Homo sapiens: one gene and its partner. The protein of the gene in region 2 interacts with the protein of the main gene of each other region in a biochemical or structural test. Each region holds a gene or a part of one and is shown on either strand. Other genes may lie near its edges.

Region 1 (3,500 bases), on a different chromosome or scaffold from region 2:
TGGCGGGGCTTCTCATGCGTGCCCTCCCCCAACCCTTCCTGTTTCGCCCCCTGCAAAACAAAGATCTCACCTTGAACTGCCCAGGATAGAGTTCCTTGGCGAGGGCGAAGAAGGGTTCCGGATGTTTCTGTAGGAGAGACAGCCAGAGGGCCAGATGCCCCAGGTAGCGTGAGGGTTGGAGCCAGGTGACCCCATCCCCACCCCTCACAGACGCCCCTTCCTGGGGGAGCACAAACCTTGAAATAGCTGATCTCAAAGATGGCCTCTGGGTAGGGAAGATGGTACTTCTCTAGGTTGTCATAGAGGCCGGTGGATGGAGAGCGAAAGTCGGGGATGCCTGCGGCTAGGAAAGGGGGGTCAGGGAGCAGTTGGTCTATACCATACTAACCCTCCCAGGACAGGGCTCAGATAGGGCTCCTCCCCAGCCCTTGGGAGGGACTCCCCAGTTCCTGGGGGTAGCTGCTGGGGGAGAAGGGTTACTTACATGTGGAGATTCCAGCTCCCACCAAACAGATGACTCTGCGACCTGGAGGAGAGGAACTTATGCACCATATGACACCGTTTGCTCAGTCCCTACGATAGCACCACCCATCACAGCCCCTGACATCGTTTACTCCATGCCAGGCCCTGGGGCAAGCATCTCAGATGCATGACGGGCCTTCCAATCATCTAGACGGGGATGGTGTTAACATCCCCATTTTATAAATGAGAAAACTGGGGCTCAGATAGGGGAAGAAGTCACACAATCAACTGCGGAAGAGCCAGCCAGCGGATAAAGAATCCAGTGTTGGGCTGGGTGCAGTGGCTCATGCCTGTAATCCCAGAACTTTGGGAGGCTGAGGCAGGCGGGTCATCTGAGGTCAAGAGTTTGAGCCCAGCCTGGCCAACATGGCAAAACCTCATCTCTACTGAAAATACAAAATTAGCCAGGCGTGGTGGCACGTGCCTGTAATCTCAGCTACTTGGGAGGCTGAGGCAGGAGAATCACTTGAACCCGGGAGGCGGAGGTTGCAGTGAGCCGAGATCATGCCATTGCACTCTAGCCTGGGTGACAGAGCGAGACTCCATCTCAAAAAAAGGAAAAAAAAAAAAAAAAGAGAATCCACTGTTGGAAATCACACCAACTTGGACTTGAGAAAAGGCCACTTTAGGATAAGAACCCTGGGCTGAGCAGAAATAGCTAGCTGGTGGCTGGTGAGTAGCCACCAGGCCATAGTACCCTGGCATCTGCCCATCAGCTGATAGACAGGCACAAGTGTGATATGCTGTGGATCAGATGCCTCTGGGATGCCCTGTCCAAGGGAGGACAGCAAAGGTGAACAGAGCACAAAGCCTGCCACAGCTTCAGCCCTGAGCTTCAGCTCTGAGATGCCATCAGGCCAGGCCTGGTTGAATCCAGTGGTGGCTACATGTGGTCTGGATTCAGGGGACCTGGGGTCAAATCCTGGCTCTGCCACTTGGCAACTGTTTGACCCTACACTGAGTCGTGACCTTTTTGTGCCTCCTTTTCCTCCTCTGTTCAGATCACTTCCATAATGATCTTACAGGTATAATGTGAATATCAAATAATAGGGCACTTGTAAAGTGCTGAGCCCAGTGCCTGGCAAATAGTGAAGCCTCAATTAAGTGGTTAAAAAGAAATTTTTAGGGCCGGGCCCGGTGGCTCACTCCTGTAATCCCAGCACTTTGGGAGGCCGAGGGGGGCAGATCACCTGAGGTCAGGAGTTCAAGACCAGCCTGGCTAACATGGTGAAACCCCGTCTCTACTAAAAGTACAAAAATTAGCCGGGCGTGGTGGCACGCGCCTGTAATCCCAGCTACTCGGGAGGCTGAAGCAGGAGAATCGCTTGAACCCGGGAGGCAGAGGTTGCAGTGAGCCATGATAGCGCCACTGCACTCCAGCCTGGGTAACAGAGTGAGACTCTGTCTCAAAATAATAATAATAATAAATTTTTAGAGCAGTGAGGTGAGGGTTGGAGCCTCACCTTTAAATTTTTGCAGAGAGGGGGTCTCGCTTATTGCCCAGGCTAGTCTTGACCTACTGGCCTCAAGCGATCCTCCTGCTTTCAGCCTCCCAAAATGGTGGGATTATAGGCCTGAACCACCACTCCCGGCCTCAACTAATTGTTATTTTTCATTACTATCTCCTCCTGGGCACCCTCATGAGCCAATTACCCCAGAATCCAGGTGCAGGAGGACACAAGGAACAAATGCTTTGTAGCCACTGCCTGTGTTGTCTTTGGGGCCTGCCCAGGCTAAAAGATGGCTGCAGACAGCTGCTCGCCTGCCGCAGGAGAGGGAGGCTCAGGGCAGCAGGCCTGGCTGCCTGAGGAGGGAGACAGTGGCAGCTGGAGGACAGGGACACAGGAGAAGATGTCCTCAACAAAAGGCTGCTCAGGAACCACAAAGGGTCGATTGTTCTAGTTGAGGACTGCCAAGGGCCTGGTTTCTCAGACTTTGGTGACCTCAACTTGTGGCAAGAAATATAAATTTCAGGCCGGGACGGGTGGTTCATGCCTCTAATCCTAGCACTTTGGGAGGCCGAGGAGGGTGGATTGCCTGAGCTCAGGTGTTCAAGACCAGCCTGGGCAACATGGTGAAACCCTGTCTCTACTAAAATACAAAAAATTAGCCAGTCGTGGTGGTGTGCGTCTGTAATCCCAGCCACTCGGGAGGCTGAGGCAGGAGAATTGCTGGAACCCGGGAGGTGGAGGTTGCAGTGAGCTGAGATTGTGCCACTGCACTCCAGCCTGGGCAACAGAGCAAGACTCCATCTCAAAAAAAAAAAAAGAAAAAGAAATATAAATTTCATGCTGACTCAGTAAGTGGACACCTATCCACCACATCTGAAATAAGCCTCCTGTAGTAATAACCACGGCACACCCTGCCACAGCTCTCGCTATGTTCCAGGCCCTGCTCTAAGCATTTGCATTTTTATTTATCTTTTAAATTTTATTACTTTATTTTTTTTTAGAGTCAGAGTCTCACTGTGTTGCCCAGGCTGCAGTGCAGTGGTGCCATCATAGCTCACTGCAGCCTCCAATTCCTGGGCTCAAACAATCCTCCCTTCTCAGCCTCCTGAGTAACTGAGACTACAGGCAACGCCCCCATATCTGACTATTTTTTTTTTTCTTGTAGAGATGGCGGGGGGGTCTCACTATGTTGCCCAGGCTGGTCTTGAACGCCTGGCGTTGAGTGATCCTCCCACGATGGCCTCCCAAAGTGCTGAGATTACATACATGAGCCACTGCCCCTGGTCCTATATTAATTTATTTAGCCCCGCCAATAACCTTATGAGTTAGATACTATAATCATTATCCTCATTTTATGAAACAGGCCTGGTCAATCAGAGTGCAGTAATTCACTCAGCAATGGAGAAGCGACCCAGGTCTGGCCAATCAGAGGCATGGGGGCAGGCATTTGACTCAACCGGGACCAATGGGAGCCAATCTCTGCTGTTTGGTTTGAACTACTGGGAAAAGGTGCTCTCTCGGTGGCAG
Region 2 (3,500 bases):
TCTGTTTTTATTGGTCACCAAAGTGACTTTTTCAAAAACACTACATAAATAATTTTATTGCCCTGCACAAAAGCATTAACTATTTCCATTATCATCAAAATCAAATAAAAATATTTCTGTCTGGAATTAAAATCATTCCATAACTTGGGACTATTGGTGCCTCCAAATACAACACCTTTTCTTCACCAATGTGTGCATAAGTCCTAGACTAGTTGTTTTTTTTAATAGTGATGCCCAAAACATAACTCTGGCTTCCCTTCTGAGCATTTTCTCATATTGTTTCCACACAAAGGTATCTTTTTACCCGTACTTGATAGATCCTTCTACATTCGACTTAAATCCAAGTTTCATCACCCTTTCTTACAACTATACTAAATCTCTATGACATCTCACCCTTATGTCAGGTCTACACACTTATGTCAGGTCTAGGTATATTATAGGAATTTTTCCATGCTTTATTTTTGTCTCTTTCAATAGGATTATAACTTTCTTGAGGAAAAATACTATATTTGTACTTCTAAAGTGTCTGTCAAAAAATTTAGCATGATGCTAAGTTCATAACCATAAGTTGTAATCCATAAATGCAGTTTATTCACCAGTGGAAATTTTTAAATGAACGTTTTAAGTCCTTTCAGCAATGTGATGTAGTGGAGGAGTCAGGAATTTCTAACAGTTTAAACACCAATGTTTATTTGTTGAAAATTTCCAAGAAATTTCTAAATGAAAGGTGTGTTTAAAATTATTCCAAGAGGAAGGGAAAATATTATCCGGTATTGTTGAAGTAAAATTGTTAATAAAGCTTCTGTAAGCTAATTTGATTATTTGACTTTTAAAAATATAATTCAGAGACTATCTCAACTTTTTCTTCTACACAGCCACTTTCAATCTAAGCATATATTGGAAGAATAAATTACAGACGTGTCTCTATTCTTTTTTTCCCAGTAACTCAAGTAAAGCTACTTGAACACTCAAGACATGTACCTTAAGATGTCTTATCTGGGTACAAGATTCATATAATTAATGTTTAATGATTTTGTCTAAATCTGTTGGAAGACACAGCTCAACCCGCCTTATGACAGAAGCTTAACAATGAAGGTTAATGATGCACCACTCATCTCAGTAGCAGTACTGCAGTGAAGCAGATGTCAAAAGAAGACACATCCAGGTCCAAAGACTACTAACTGAATATAAAACAGCATTTTTTCAGTCTAAAAGAACCCAGAATATCCACTCACCCAAATATTATTTATTCTTTAATTATTTTAGTTAAGTTTTCTTGGAAAATGGCTATTGACTAAAAATTCAGAATAAAATATAACCACCGTGAAAAGTCCAGAACAATCATGACAATAAAAACAAACTTTTATATTTGTATGCCTCTTTATAGTTTTCAGTCTCATCTTATGCATATTTCATATTATTGCCTTAATAGCTCTGGAAGATAAATCTTAGGGTTAATATATTTTTTAAAATAAGGAGGAAAATAAGAATCAGAGATTACATGACTAGCCTGAGGTATTCAGCTTAGAAGTATTGTAAGACAAGGCTTTTAAATTAGAATGTAGTGTTCTTTTGACCATGTAATTCTTTCTGGGTGAAGGATGATTTATTTGGCCATGCAAAAATCTGACTAGCATGCAAGTGTTATAGATCAAACAATTCCAAAAATTTCAAAGCTCCACAAGATAATAGCTATGGCTGGGGGGAAGCAATTTCATTATGGCGCTTACTTTTCTATGTAATAAAGTCTCAACTCTCTACTATGAACCCCATTATAGCCCAAGATGTGTGGTTCCTTGTTGCCATTGAGCACACCTGAGTTATCCCTGACCCTGCTACATGCCCCCTTCCACAATCCAATAATTAAATGTGCCTTTCATATTCAAATCCTATTAATCTTTAAGATCTAGACCTCTGACTTTTCTTATACAGCTTTCACAGAACATTCTAAATTGTTAAAATGTACTGGAAACTTATTATTAGGGCCTGCCATTGTTTACATACTTTGTCTCATTTTTTGGCAAAACATTGTGAGAAGTCTCATCTTCACTTAACAGATGAGAAAACTGGGTCTAACGTAGATTATATAACTTGGTCAAAATGACAGTGTATAGTAACAGTTCTGTACTCTCTTGTGCCTTAACTTCTTTAATAATTATTGTAAATTTTCCAAACAGACTATAAGGTCTTATAGGGTAGGGACAATATATTGTGGTGAGGAAAGAGGAATTCATCCTTAGCGCCCGGCAGACTGCTGCAATCTATATAGACGGTAATCACTATGTACACATCAGAAGTTAGTATGGTAAAATAAAAAGAACAAAGGATTTTTGAAACCAATTTCAGCACTGCTAATTACGTTCTAAGCAGCAATGTGCAAATTATTTAATCTTTATGAGGTTTTCGTTTTTCTTCTGTTGAACAGAGCTAAAAATACCTACTCCCCGGTTGTAGGAAACATGGAATAAAATAGCAAATGTGATAAGTGCGTTCTGAACCATAAGCATGACAAACATTTTAGCCAATATTTTAATAAACATTTGAATGAATGGATCCCATGTGTGCTAATTTTTGTAAACTATTCAAAATTTTTGTCTGAGAGGCAGTTGAGAGAAAAGTGAAAATTACAAAAGGATTCTGGATATATATGTGCCAATTACACACCACTCATGATGGTTTTTTAAGCTCATGGGGTGTCTGAAGTCACTGAGATAATTTTCCTAAAAATAGAATGAAGCCCACCAGCTACAGTCAGAAATGCTATTGTGCTGCAGACTAACACTGACAGAGGCCCCCCCAAAAGTATGCTGTTGTGCCCTTTTTTTTTTTTTTTTTTGAGACGGAGTCTCGCTCTATGGCCCCGGCTGGAGTGCAGTGGCATGATCTCGGCTCACTGGAAGCTCCTCTGTCTCCCGAGTTCATGCCATTCTCCTGCCCCAGCCTCCCGAGTAGTGTTGTGCACTTTTATAGTATCCAAGAAGCAAAGCTTGAGAAGAAACAAGTGTTCACTCCTGAGATTTTAACAAAATGAGGCATTGGTTCATCAACCACTACAAATATACACTAGAACTTTTTAGGTGCTGAATTATAAAAATTACAACAGCACTTTGAATGGCAAACATACAGTTGGCTCTATATACCCATGAGTTCAGCAAATTCTATCAACTGCAGATCAAAAATATTTTTTAAAAATTCCAGAAAATGTAACGTTGTTGACATGTACTGTTTGATCTGTACTAAACATGTACAGACTTTTGTTCCTTGTAATTATTCCCTAACAATATAACAACTATTTACCTAGCATTTACACTGTATTAGGCATTGTAAATAACCTAGAGATGATTTAAAGTATACATAAGAATGTGTGTAGGTTACCTGCAAACACTGTGCCATTTTGTATGTGGGGCTTGAGCAGCCACTGAATTTGGTATCCACAGGGGGGCCTGGAACCAATCCCCCATGAGTACCAAGGGAGGACTGTAGATCATATTACCCAATTA

What was found. Proteins that work in one complex are often made in the same cells at the same time.
Region 1: the proteins of PLA2G4A (region 2) and SIRT2 form a complex in vitro, tested with the Homo sapiens proteins (one study listed by BioGRID).

Annotation. Positions count from the first base shown.
Region 1 is NC_000019.10:38,889,619-38,893,118, forward strand, and holds part of SIRT2 (NAD-dependent protein deacetylase sirtuin-2), read right to left. Parts: intron 527-3,500; coding exon 485-526; intron 344-484; coding exon 237-343; intron 128-236; coding exon 71-127; intron 1-70. UniProt on the Homo sapiens protein: NAD-dependent protein deacetylase, which deacetylates internal lysines on histone and alpha-tubulin as well as many other proteins such as key transcription factors.
Region 2 is NC_000001.11:186,940,449-186,943,948, reverse strand, and holds part of PLA2G4A (cytosolic phospholipase A2), read right to left. Parts: intron 1-3,500. UniProt on the Homo sapiens protein: Has primarily calcium-dependent phospholipase and lysophospholipase activities, with a major role in membrane lipid remodeling and biosynthesis of lipid mediators of the inflammatory response.